Regions from separate parts of the Homo sapiens genome. Here all the other regions are linked to region 3. The links come from fine-mapping of genetic effects on gene expression. A gene starts in region 3. Each other region holds a variant in brackets. All regions are shown on one strand. Distances are from middle to middle.

Region 1 (4,164 bases), 48 kb before region 3:
CATGCCATTGTGAACATGTGTCCACCCAACTCTGGGGAACAGGGAATGTAAGGCAGGCAGTGGCCAGAGGGTCCTGAGGAAGCTGCCTCTCTGTGCCCTGGCCCCTTCTGATGGAGAAAAAAAATCTCTTCCTCTAACGTCTGCCTGGACACCTGCAATGCCTGGGAGCTCACTACCTCCTAAGACAACCCAGCCAGGTCAGCTCCCCACTGGGAAGTTCTCCACCATCACTAAGAACAGCAGACACCTGCACCCAAAATCCTCCCCGCAGACCCTACTGCTGGTGACAAATCTCTCACTGGCCTATAGCAGTGTACAACTCTGAGCGTTGTGGTGAGTTCTCTTACCTCGAAATGTATTCAGAGTGGAGGATCCCCTGCCATTTTACAATCTCATCCTTCCTACTTTTGGGCTGTTCAAGGAAAGACACTCTGACATTACCGTGCTAGGAGATGTTTACTTTTCCTTTTTGTCCTAACTTGGCAGAATTTAAAAATTAAACATTGGCAATTCTATATTGACATTTCCCCTAAATATATATACATATTTTTTTTGAGACAGAGTCTCGTTGTGTTGCCCAGCCTGGAGTGCAGTGGTGTGATCATAGCTCACTGCAGCCTTGAATGCCTGGGCTCAAGCAATCCTCCCACCTCAGCATCCCCAGTAGCTGGGACTACAGGCACATGTCACCACGCCCGGCTAATTTCTTATTTTTTTTTTCTTTGGTGGGTGATGGAGTCTTGCCTCCCAGGTTCAAGCGATTCTCATAGCTCAGACTCCTGAGTAGCAGGGATTACAGGTGCCCACCACTATGCCCAGCTAATTTTTTTGTATTTTTAGTAGAGACGGGGTTTCACCATGTTGGCCAGGCTGGTCTTGAACTCTTGACCTCGTCCACCTCGGTGATTCGCCCACCTTGGCCTCCCAAAGTGCTGGGATTACAGGTATGAGCCACCATGCCCTGCCAACCTGGCTAATTTTTAAACTTTTTGTAGAGATGGAGTCTCACCATGTTGCCCAGGCTACCTCAAGAAATCCTCCTTCCTCAGCCTCCCAAAGTTCTGGGATTACAGGCATGAGCCATATCACCCAGCCCAGGCTTAAAACAAAAAAAAAAAAAAAAAACTAGTCCATGTACCAGCCTGGCCAACATGGCGAAAACCCATCTCTACTAAAAATACAAAAATTAGTTGGGTGTGATGGCATGAACTTGTAGTCCCAACTATTGGGAGGCTGAGGTGGGAGAATCACTTGAGCCTTGGAGGTGGAGTCTGCAGTGAGCCAAGATCCCGCCACTGTAATCCAGCCTGGGCAACAGAGTGAGACCCTGTCTCAAAAAAAAAAAGACTCCATGTAATCCATGATCCCAGTGTCTGGCTTTTGAAGGAAATAGTGGAAACCTCCTTTTACAGATGAGGAAACTGAGGCTCGGGGTGGGTACGTGATGGCTCACAGTCACACAGTCAGGGAGAGATAGGTCAGGCCTCAAATCCCAGGCTCTGGGCTCCATAGGCCACTGTCCTTTCTCTCTTTCTAAAGTCTAGTCTTCTGCCCTCTGGGGCATCACGGAATCCATCCGTTTGGAGGCAGCCTGCAGGCTCCTCTTCTGAGGCGCGACCTCCTGGGTGCTTCACAAACCTTCCCCAGGTTCCCTGCCCCTGCCTTCCTTTAAACTTGCCCTGGGGGCCCCCATCCCACAGAGAATGTGGTTCCTAGAAGCAAACACCATATCCCTTTCTTTATCCTCTCCAACACCCCGCACCCCATCTTTGGAACAGGCCCCCCACTTTCATTTTCCAACAATGTCTGCCAGGCAAGGCTGTTTACCCGCCCCAAGTGAAGGGTATTTAATAAGTATCTCTCCACCCCTCACCCACACGCCCTCCCTCCACTCACCCGCCTGCCTGGGGCTGGCGCCGGCACCCACCCAGCACTGCTCAGACTTGCCCCACAGGCCAGTAAACAGCGACTGCACCCCTGCAATGGGTAGAGGCCCCAACCCCACCCCCCAGCCACACCCACCTTGAGGTGAGCACGGGGCTCCTCCCTCCCCTCCCGCTCTCCTTACTCAGTGACCCCAGCAAGGTCCCTGATGGATGTTTCAATGGCCCAGTGAGTAGGGAGCCCAGAGCTTCACTGTGCCAAGAGACCCTCCCCAAAGCAGCCAAGCACCTTCTCACAGGGCAAGGCCTTGGAGCAGGTTCCCAAGGAGCCCCTCCTCATCCTGGAAGAAGCAGTCCCTAAACAGAGCTCAACAACACTCCCTGGCTGTGCAGCATTGGATAACTCACTTCACCTTTCTGAGCCTTCCAGATTTCCCATCTGTTATATGGGCATTAATAATATCCCCTACTTCCACAGAGTTGTCATGAGGGTTAAAGGAGCTAATACAAGCAATGTGTTCGTAGTGGTCCTGGCACATTGCACTCAATAAAGACCAGTCTCTGTGAAACATCGTTGTACACTAAGTGTTAGCTCCATCCCCACTCTTCTCCAAGC[T/C]TCAGTTTCCTCCTCTGTAAAAAATAATGCCTGCCCTGCTCAAGGGCTATTATAAGGTTCAGAGGAGATTATGGGTGTAAACACTATAAAGTCCTATAAAAATTGAAGTTGTGCTTTCCAGCCTTCCAGAAGAATCCAACCCATTCCAAGATCTCTTTTCTTCCAGAGCCCACAATGCAGTGCCCCAAACACTCTCTTCTTGCAGTCATCTTTCTAAGCAGAGAGATCCCCACCTTAGCCAGAAAAGGGCTCCATTTGGCCAATACTGTCCCCAAAAAGCAGGCAGGTAGGAAATGCTCCTCTCTCGAGCCTCACCATGGGCCAGGCTCCCGGCTATTGTATTTCATCCTCATCACAACCTTGGAAGACTGGTTTCAGATCCTCACTTTGCAGATAAGGAAACTGAGGCTCAGAGAGGTTAGGAAAGTTGCACAATGCCCTTGGCTGAAAAGCAGCAAAGCCAGGACTCACCCCAGGTTTGTTTTGCTACAAAGCTAGGCTCTTCCTCCACCCGCTGAGCAGCAAGTCCCAGTCAGCTGCCAGCCCTTGCTCATCTGATGTAACTCCCCACCCCCACCGTGGCCCAAGCAAGCTCAGACAGAGGCAGTAACTGTGAGCAGGGCCAGATGGCCCTACCCAGGAGCGGGCTGGGGCAGGCTGGGGCTCCACAGTCATAATGGGGAGGAACAGTGCATGTGCCAGGGCCCCAGGCAGGTGGGAGCTGAGGGTGCACGTTCTCCCCAATTTCCCCAGCCTCCATCCCAGGAAGCTAGAGGCAAGACTCACACTCTTCAGAAAGGAGCGGCTCATTAACCCCCACCTTCCTCCAGCTTTGCTGGAACAGCACCAAGGACAATTCCCTTCCCCCAGGTCAGGAGGAAGGGTGTTCATCCTCACCTTGGGGAGAACCTCAGAGCAGCCCACTGCAAGGCCGACCTCGGGAGAGGAACAAGGCCTCAGAATCCCAAGAGTCCTGGATGCCCCGACCAGGGAGTGGAAAGAGCGCTGGAGCGCGTCGGCAGCCTGGGGTGTGTTGGGTGACCCCTGTGTACCAGCTACCATCCCCAGGAGATCCATAGCTCAAGAATGCAGCAAGCCCTGTGCTCAGGGAGTGCCTGCTCCAAAGCAGGGTTCTCAGACTCCACTGCATATTCACATGCCCTGGGTGGCCTCGCTAAAATGCAGATTATGTTTCTGTAGGGGTGGAGCCCAGGTGATGTGGTCCTGCTGAGCCATTCATGGTCTACTGGACTCACCTGAAAAACTGGAAAACAAACAAAACTGAGGCCTGGGTTCACCCCCTGGAGAGTTTAATCTAATTGGCACAAGGCGCAGCCTGGGGTGAGTCTAGTGTGTAACCAAGCTTGAGAATCCCTGCTTTCACTGCAGGTACAGAGAAACCACTTCCTTTTTTTTTTTTTTTTTGGAGATGGGGCTTCACTCTTGTCACTCAGGCTGGAGTGCAGTGGCGCAATCTCGGCTCACTGCAACCTCTGCCTCCCGGGTTCAAGCGATTCTTGTACCTCAGCCTCCCAAGTAGCTGGGATTACAGGTGCCCGGCTAATTTTTGTATTTTTGGTAGAGATGGGGTTTGCCATGTTGGCCAGGCTGGTCTTGAACTCCTGACCTCAGGTGATCCACCCGCCTAGGCCTCCCAAAGTGCTG
Region 2 (4,164 bases), 73 kb before region 3:
AGGCCTGCAGGTGGAGGGCGGAGACTCCATGAGTAATCAGGTTTACAGAGGAATGCACTTCCAAGGAAAATGAGTCAGAGGCAGGAAGAGGAGAGTGAGAGCCCAGTCTGGATGCCACCCTCACCTGACCTACAAGGCTCGCTGCCCCAGGCACTTGGGGAGACCCCTGTTCCCTCTCACACTCTCAGCCCTACTATAGGCCCCGGTGAAATGCAGGGAAGATCCCTGTAGCCAAAAGTCCTATAAATGATGGTGAGGAGTCAGGAAGGAGACCCTAATGAATCCTCTCCCAGCACCCTGTTTTCTCTTCTGCCTGGAACTCAAACAGTATTTGCAGGAAAGCACCCACTGAAGGTGCTCCTTCTTCCTCTGGGCATGCACTCCAGGAGGCATGCTTGCTATTTGAACATCCCTGAGCACTTTGCATTTTCAGCCTGGCCAATCTGCCTCCAACTTGCACTCCCAGAAGACTGAGAGCTGCCTAAAGGCAGAACCCAGCCTGGCTCTCTGGTCCTTAGAGTCATGGTGTTTAACACTGTTGAATGGACAAATTCAACTCTACTGTATTGGACTATATTGGACTGTACTTACTAAGTACTGTACTTCTCAAAGCCAGTCATGTGCCTGTATCTCCACCACCACCACCCTAGGCTCCTGCCCTCTGCACTTGATCAGCTCCCCAACCCTTTAGCCATACCACATCCAGAGGATCTTGCAAAACACAATGTCTTGGGAGGATTGCTGGATCCCAGGAGGTCAAGGCTACAGTGAGCTATGATCGTGCCACTGCACTCCAGCATGGGTGACAGAGAAGACCTTGTCTCAAAAATAAACCAAAACAGGGCCGGGCACTGTGGCTCACTGCTGTAATCCCAGCACTTTAGGAGGCCGAGATGGGCAGATCACGAGGTCAGGAGATTGAGACGATCCTGGCTAACAGGGTGAAGCCCCGTCTCTACTAAAAATACAAAAAAATTAGCTGGGTATGGTGGCATGTGCCTGTAGTCCCAGCTACTCAGGAGGCTGAGGCAGGAGAATTCTTGAACCCGGGAGGTGGAGATTGCAGTGAGCTGAGATAGCACCACTGCACTCCAGCCTGGGCGACAGAGCGAGACCCTGTCTCAAAAATACATAAATAAAAATAAAAATAGATAAACAAAAACAAATTAAAAAAACCAAACACAATGTCATCACGCTTCTACAAATGTTCTGTTGCTTCCCACTGTTTTCAAGGTAAATCCAAAACCTCTAAGCTGGTGCACTGGGGCTGGCCCCTAGGTGCCTCTCTGGCCTCCTTGTTGTAAATCCTTCTGTCTTTGTCCACCAGCTGCACTGAGTTTTCTTCAGCTCCTCAACAGGACCGCTATCACTCACTCCTACCCCAGGACCTTTGCACCTGCAGTCTCTTCCATCTGCAAGTTCTTTCTCTCTCCTTTACCCTTTTTGCCTGGCTAGCTTCTATTGTATTCAGATCTTGGATTAATTGAGGCAGCTCTCCGTGATCCCCTATAGGCATGTCCCTTGTTACACATTCTCAAGGCAACCTTGACTTTTCCTTCATAGCCTCTTTCACAGTCCATAATTAGACATCTGCATGGTTATTTCATCAATGTCTACCCTCCATCCTCATCCCCCATCCTGTCCCAAAGACCATCAACAGGATGTGGACCGATGCCCAGGCCCAGCCCTAGCACCTGCCCCCCAGGAGGCTGGAATCAGAAGGACACGCCTGACCCAGAAAGGCCCCACACCCCAGGAGCCTGAGATCTGGGATAGTACTTGGCCCAAAAGGGCAGCCCCACCCTGTGCTGCCAAAGTTGCAAGAGGAAGAACTGGGGCTCTGGGTATACTTACCTGGAAAGAGAAAGCTGAGGAATGCTTGAAGACAGAGATAAGATGGCCAGAAAGCAGGAAATGAGCTGCAGATAGCTGTTGGCTGAGGCAGGGCAGTTTAGAATTAAGGCTGCAGATCAAAGCCACAGGAAGTGGGCTGGTATTTTTCGGTAACAGCAAAATCTGATAGAAGCCACAGTTTCCTGTCTGGGTGGGGCAGGCAATTCATTCACTCATTCATACATATTTGTTCCTATCATATGGTCATTCAACAAAT[A/C]TTGATTGAGCACCTTTCTGGGTGCCAGACACTGTGCAGTGCCCTGGGGGACAGCAGTGAGTACAAGTGAATTAAGTCCCTACTCTCCTGAATTTGCAGGCATCTATCTTGTTGTCTAGACCTTTTTCCCAACTGCCAGCCTATAGTCCATTTAGTGAGTCACAGCCAGCATTTTTTTAAATGCAATACAGAATGGGATAGAAAATATTAGTGTAGCCCAAGCAGTGAGGATAAGCATTCAGTTATACATGTATTACGTGAACTGGGTCCTGGCATAAAATGTATTTCTTCCTGTGGTTCATAATCAGAAAAGTTTGAGAAACATCATTCTAAGCATTATTTAAATAATTCCAAGGCCGGGCATGGTGGCTCACACCTGTAATCCCAGCACTTTGGGAGGCCGAGGCAGGTGGATCACCTGAGGTCAGTAGTACGAGGCAAGCCTGACCAACATGGTGAAACCCCATCTCTACTAAAAATACAAAAAAAAATTAGCCAGGCGTGGTGGTGCATGCCGGTAATCCCAGCTACTCAGGAGGCTGAGGTAGGAGAATCGCTTGAACCCAGGAGGCGGAAGTTGCAGTGAGCCGAGATCGCGCCACTGCATTCCAGCCTGGGCAACAAGAGCGAAACTCCGTCTCAAAAAAAAAAAAAAAAATTCATAACCGAAGTCAATGATAGGGAGCATGAAGAAATACACAGAGTGCTACAGGAGGTTAGAACAGTAGGGCCCCAACTGGTCTGGGCTGGGGACGGTGGTCAGGGACATCTTTGCTGCAGAGAGGATGCCTGAGTTCTCTGAGAAGGGGGCGGGGAGTGGGAAATGGAGGAGTGCTAAGGGAAGGATGGGGGAGGAGGTGTGAACTAGTACTGTGTCAAGAGGATGGCTTGGCGAAGGAGCAGTCAGGCAGAGACCGGCATGTGCCACACGCACCATCAGAGGGTGGGGGAGGGTGGCGGGACGTGGAGGTGGAGAGGTGGGAAGGAGCCTTGTGAAGCTTATTGAACAGTTGGGTCTCGATCCTAAAAGCAATGAGAAGCCACTGGTGGGTTTATTCATTCATATATCCAACAACCGCTTGCTGAGGAATCCCTTCCCCTGGCATCCTGGTGCTGGAGACACAGAGATGAAAACACCCTGAAGCCACTTCCAGGCCAGTTGAGAGTCAAGACATGCTGGAAACATGAAGAAGCAATCAAGACAGGAAGCAGTCAATGCAGACGCACATCCTACTGAAGGAAACCAGTGTTTTAGAACGGGTTCCCCAGAAGCAGACTCTGAGACAAGGATGAGCATGAGATTCATTGACTTGGCAGGTGATCCCAGGAAGCACTGTAGGGAAATGGAAGAGTGACACAGAAAGGGGGAGGAAGCCAATGGAGGAGGACTGACAAGCCCCTGTGGGCAACTGGGAACTCAAACGCAATCCCACTGGAAGCCCCTGAGAGATGGCAGAACACACCTACAGGAAGTAAAGATGGTTTTCATCATCCAGTTCGCATCTGTCACTGGCTGAAGGCTGCTCCTGGGGTCATCAACTCCACAACACTCCTAACCTGTCCCATGCACAGGACAGACAGCCTGCTTCTGTCTGCAGAGAAGGCCTCTGGCAGAACTGCAGGGATGCAGGCAGAAGCCTCAGCATGCAGGGGAACAGCGAATGCCAACGGTGGATGCACAGGGCACCAAAGTCATCCTGTGCAGCTTCCAGAGCATTCTGTGGCCCCTTAACTCATCTGTATTTGATGTAGGATGATGAGCCCCAAATATCAAACTACAGCCCTAACTTTTATTTGGCCTCCAAATCTTTATATCAGCTCTCCCTCAGACATCTCACTTTGGATGTCCCATGAGCACCTCAAATCATCAGGTCCTCAAACTTAATGCATATGCATCTCCATCCTCACCATTAAACCTACATACCTCCTGTTTCCCTACTGGGATGGATGGTGCCCCCAATTACCCAGTCACTCAAGCCCAAACCAGCTAAGCACAATCCCTCAATCCTGTTACTTCTCTCACTGCCCAGCCTTAGGGTGACTCCCCTACCCCA
Region 3 (4,140 bases):
TTCAAAGTGCTGAGAGAGGAGGAGGCTACCAGCCATCCTTATCTGGTGCCAGATACCCTCTGGCTGGTGGAGGATGGAGATTCAAAGGGAACGTGACTCTGTTGTACCCCGCGAACCCAAGGGCTCGGCCCTTGCTCCCTCCCAGTCTCAGTACCCCTCCTCTACCATTGCCACTGGCATCTCTGCCCCAAGATTAGCGACTTTCTCCCCCAGGACCCCCCTTCCCAGATATGCTGGGTGCCAGGCTGGCATTTCTCCTAGAATGTTTTCTGCTGACCCATCTCTCCCTACCCAGGGGCAGGAAGGGCAGAGAGGCCCGAGGCCCAGACCCCTGGAGTCCACCTCCTTCCTGTTTTCCCTGCATCCTGCTCTCCTCGGCTGACAAGCTGCAGAGGATTGAGGAAGTGGAGGGTTTGGGTCCCAGGACAGGAAGCTTGGGGCTGGAGTCCCAGCATCCGGACTGCAACAATGGAAGCTTCAAGCACCAGGAAAAGAGACAGAGACAGACAGAGGCACAGGAGAGCAAAACAGGGTCGGAGATGGAATGAGAAACAGAGGCATAGATACAGAAAGACAGACAGAGAGATTCCCAAAGTAACAGGGAAAGACCAACAGTGACAGAGACACAGAGAAACAGCAACAGAAAGAGAGGGAGAGAAGCAGAGCAACTGAAACAGAAACACAGAATAAGGTGGAGAAAGAAACGCACGATGGGCAGAAGACACTGAGGAAAACAGAACTCGAGAGCATGACTAGTGAAACTAGAGGTTGAGAGACAAATCAGGAAGAACAAAAGAGCAAGAGAAAGAAGGAAAAGAGACTGAGAGTCTAAGGAGAAACTGAGAAACAAAAAAAGAAAGTGTAAGAATGAGGTTAGGGCAAGGGCCTTCTCAGAGTCTCTCTCTCTCTCTCTCTCTCTCTCTCTCTCTCTCTCTCTCTCTCTCTCTCTGTCTCTGTGTGTGTGTGTGTGTGTGTGTGTGTGTGTGTGTGTGTGTGTTTCTCTCTCTCTCTCTCTCTCTCTCTGTTTCTCTCCCCTGGCGCCCTGGCCCCTTCTCTATTCCCTATCCCACACACATGAGGCTCCTGCAGCTCTCGGCTAGGAGCCAAGACTTTTCTACCACCTCAAATCCTACCTGCCTGGAGAAAAGAACAGGGGGCCTGTATACCAGGGCAGGCAGAGGTGTCCAGGCCTGGCAGAGGGACCCCTGTCTTCCCACTGCCTCTCAAACAACAAGGTGACCTGGCTCTGGGCTTTGGGGAAGGGCAAGTCTAATGCCCCTCAACGCCAAAGTCCCTCTAATTTGTATGTCCCACTCCACCACTGGACCATGTAAAAAAAAAGTTCAGGCCCTGGCTCCCCAGACCACTGGGATTTCACCCTCGGCCTGGATCAGGAACAGAAAGCTTTCCCCACTCCCTCATCCTCCCCAACACACACCCCACCACCATCCTCCAGTTCTCTGGCCCTAGACAGCTGACTTAACTGGACCTTAATCTGCCACTCCTGCACCAGCAGCCAGGCCTCCCACTGGGACCCCCTTATCAAACAGACAACCCTTGGAGGTTTGAGATGGAGCGATGGGACAGTCTCCCTTGGTGGTGGCAACAGGCTGCTAGGGACTCGGTAGCAGTTTCCTTGATGAGCCTGTCCCATGCCAGTCGGGCCCTGCCACGTACCTGCCTTCTCTTCAACTCATAGGGGATTTTTAAGGGCCTTCCAGGGCGGCTGGAATGGGGAAGAAGCCGCTGGGAAGGGAGCGCACTCAGGAGGGAATTGGGAGGCCAGGGGTACCTTACCAGAGGGCTGCAGGCTTTCCTGGATGGCCTCGATCTCCGCCAGCTCCATGCACACGCCTTGCCCGTGCATCAGTGTGTGCAGGGGCTTCTCCACCCCTCGGGGCGGGTAGCAGCGCAGGCCCGAGCCGCAACGGGGGGTGTACACCCCGCAGGGCATCCCCAAGCCCAGGGCGCAAGTGGCGCAACAGCCGCAGCCCGGCTCTCGCACCAGCTCCTCGCAGCCCACGGGGGGGCGGCAGCGCGCCAGCTTCTCCTCGGAGCAGGGCGGGCAGTGGATGGCTTCGTCGCCCAGGCTCGGCCCGGGCCCGGCGGCCAGCAGCAGGGCGGCCACGAGGCAGAGGGGCAGCATGACCGCCCGAGGACTGGGCGCGGGCGCGGGGCGCTGGGCGCAGGCGGGGAGCGCGGGCGCGCGGGCGAGCGGCGGAGGGCACACGGCGGCAGCGCCTGGCGCTCCTGGAGGACCCGACCCGGAGGGCGCGGGGAGACGGGGCGGCCCGGCGGGCGAACGGGGACGTAGCGGGGGAAGTTAGCAGGCGTGCCGGAGGGGAGCAAGCCTGGCCGCCGAGGCGCTGCGCCGCATCCTCGGCCCGGCCCAGGCAGGCGGCGGGCGGCGAGGGGCAGGGGGCTGAGCGGCTGCCCGGGACCGGCTCCCCCGGACTTTATACCGGTCCCTGGCCACACCCCCAGCGCCTTCCCAGAGGTGGGGGAGCCGGGGCGGGCGAGGGGGAGAGGGAGAGGCGGCCGTTAGGGGGAGGGGGCGCTGTCCTGAGTCGCCGCCGCCGCCGCCGCCGCATCTGAAAGTCCTTTTCTGCCGAAGAAGGAAGCGGCGCAGTTTGGAAGCTGTAGCAGGCGCCCAGAGTGCCTCTGAACCGGAGCCCCGGAGGGGAGGCAAGGGAGAAGGGAAGCCAAGGGGCTGCTGCGGGGCCCCCTTTCCCGACCTCGGAGGAGTCTCGTCCCGCCCCGCCAAGGCGGCCTCAGTCTCCCACCGAGAAAGGGACTTCCTAGCCCGGACTCCCGGCTCTGCGGATCCGGTCTTCCTGGACAGAGCCCTTTCCACCGCACCCCGGTGCTTCCAGCCTCAACCGCTGGAGACCAAGCCTCCTGAGGTGGGGTAAAGCGTACAGGCACAGCTAGGGGCACAGAAAGGCCTGGAGGCCCTAAGACGTTAACAGGCTCTTGCCACTTGCCCCTTGCAACCTCTCCCGCCCCCGCAATCTCCCCAGGGCGCATTTGGGCCCTGGTCCACCCTGCTTCCCCAAGATGGAATCAGCAGAACTCCCGGGGAGGGAGGTGCCGCCGAGCCTCTTCCTCCTTCTTGGATGTTTGCCTCTCAGGCCCATTCAGACCCACTCGTGGAGGGAGGCAGGCCTGGGAGATTGCCACTTGCAATGTGCAAGTTTTGCGTTGAACAACTCCAGTGGGGCACCATTCCTTGTAATCATTGTGTATTTGTAGAGCTGTTGTGATCATTTCCCAGATGGCAGTGAAGGATTTGAGGGGCCTGCAGCAGTGACTCACACCTGTAATGTCAGCACTTTTGGAGGCTGAGGCGGGAGGATCACTTGAGCCCAGGAGTTCAAGACCAGTCTGGGCAACGTAGTGAGACCTTGTCTCTACAAAAAAATTTTAAAATTAGCCAGGTGTGGTGGCGTTCACCTGTGGTCCCAGGTACTCGGGAGCCTGAGGCAAGAGGATCACTTGAGCCCAGGAGTTGGAGGCTGCAGTGAGCTAGAATTGTACCACTGCACACCAGCCTAGGTGAAAGAAGGAAACTCTGTCTAAAAAAGAAAGAAAGAAAGAAGGCCGGGCGCGGTGGCTCACGCCTGTAATCCCAGCACTTTGGGAGGCCGAGGCGGGCAGATCACGAGGTCAGGAAATCGAGACCATCCTGGCTAGCACGGTGAAACCCCCTCTCTACTAAAAATACAAAAAGTTAGCCGGGCGTGGTGGCGGGTGCCTGTAGTCCCAGCTACTAGGGAGGCTGAGGCAGGAGAATGGCATGATCCCGGGAGGTGGAGCTTGCAGTGAGCTGAGATTGCGCCACTGCACTCCAACCTGGGCGACAGAGCGAGACTCCATCTCAAAAAAAAAAAGAAAGAAAGAGAAAAAAGAAGGCCAGGCGTAGTGGCTCATGCCTGTAATCCTAGCACTTTGGGAGGCCAAGGTGGGCAGATCACCTGAGGTCAGGAGTTTGAGACCAGTCTGGCCAACACGGTGAAACCCCATCTCTACTAAAAATACAAAAATTAGCCGGGCGTGGTGGCGCATGCCTGTAATCCCAGCTACTTGGGAGGCTGAGGCAGAAGAATCGCTTGAACCCCAGGAGGAGGAGGTTACAGTGAT

Alleles and levels. Positions count from the first base shown, and alleles are read on the strand shown. Sizes are in standard deviations (SD) of each study's normalised expression. Not every link is listed here.
In carriers of allele T in region 1, the expression in cerebellar hemisphere of the gene that starts at base 2,432 in region 3 tends to be lower than with C alone (small effect, 0.35 SD a copy in GTEx).

What was found. PIP is the estimated chance that this variant, and not a neighbour inherited with it, causes the effect. A credible set is the group of variants that fine-mapping cannot tell apart.
Region 1: its variant is the best candidate, but not a certain one, in a credible set for the expression of IGFBP4 in cerebellar hemisphere (GTEx, PIP 0.67).
Region 2: its variant is the best candidate, but not a certain one, in a credible set for the expression of IGFBP4 in whole blood (TOPMed, PIP 0.59).

The regions. Positions count from the first base shown.
Region 1 is chr17:40,489,557-40,493,720 of GRCh38, reverse strand. All of the region lies in intron 2 of TNS4 (tensin 4), which reads left to right. Among named protein-coding and RNA genes, the nearest start is that of TNS4, 10 kb to the left of the region's middle. RefSeq lists enhancers at 1-244, 2,609-3,234. The variant T/C (reference allele first, on the strand shown) is at 2,500.
Region 2 is chr17:40,514,740-40,518,903 of GRCh38, reverse strand. LOC105371773 (a long non-coding RNA gene) reads right to left here and starts at 1,959. Exons shown (of 4, transcript NR_188623.1): 1 at 1,855-1,959. The variant A/C (reference allele first, on the strand shown) is at 2,111.
Region 3 is chr17:40,441,742-40,445,881 of GRCh38, reverse strand. It overlaps IGFBP4 (insulin like growth factor binding protein 4), which reads right to left and starts at 2,432. Exons shown (of 4, transcript NM_001552.3): 1 at 1,798-2,432. The coding sequence starts at 2,146. RefSeq lists silencers at 2,226-2,275, 2,286-2,335, 2,346-2,535.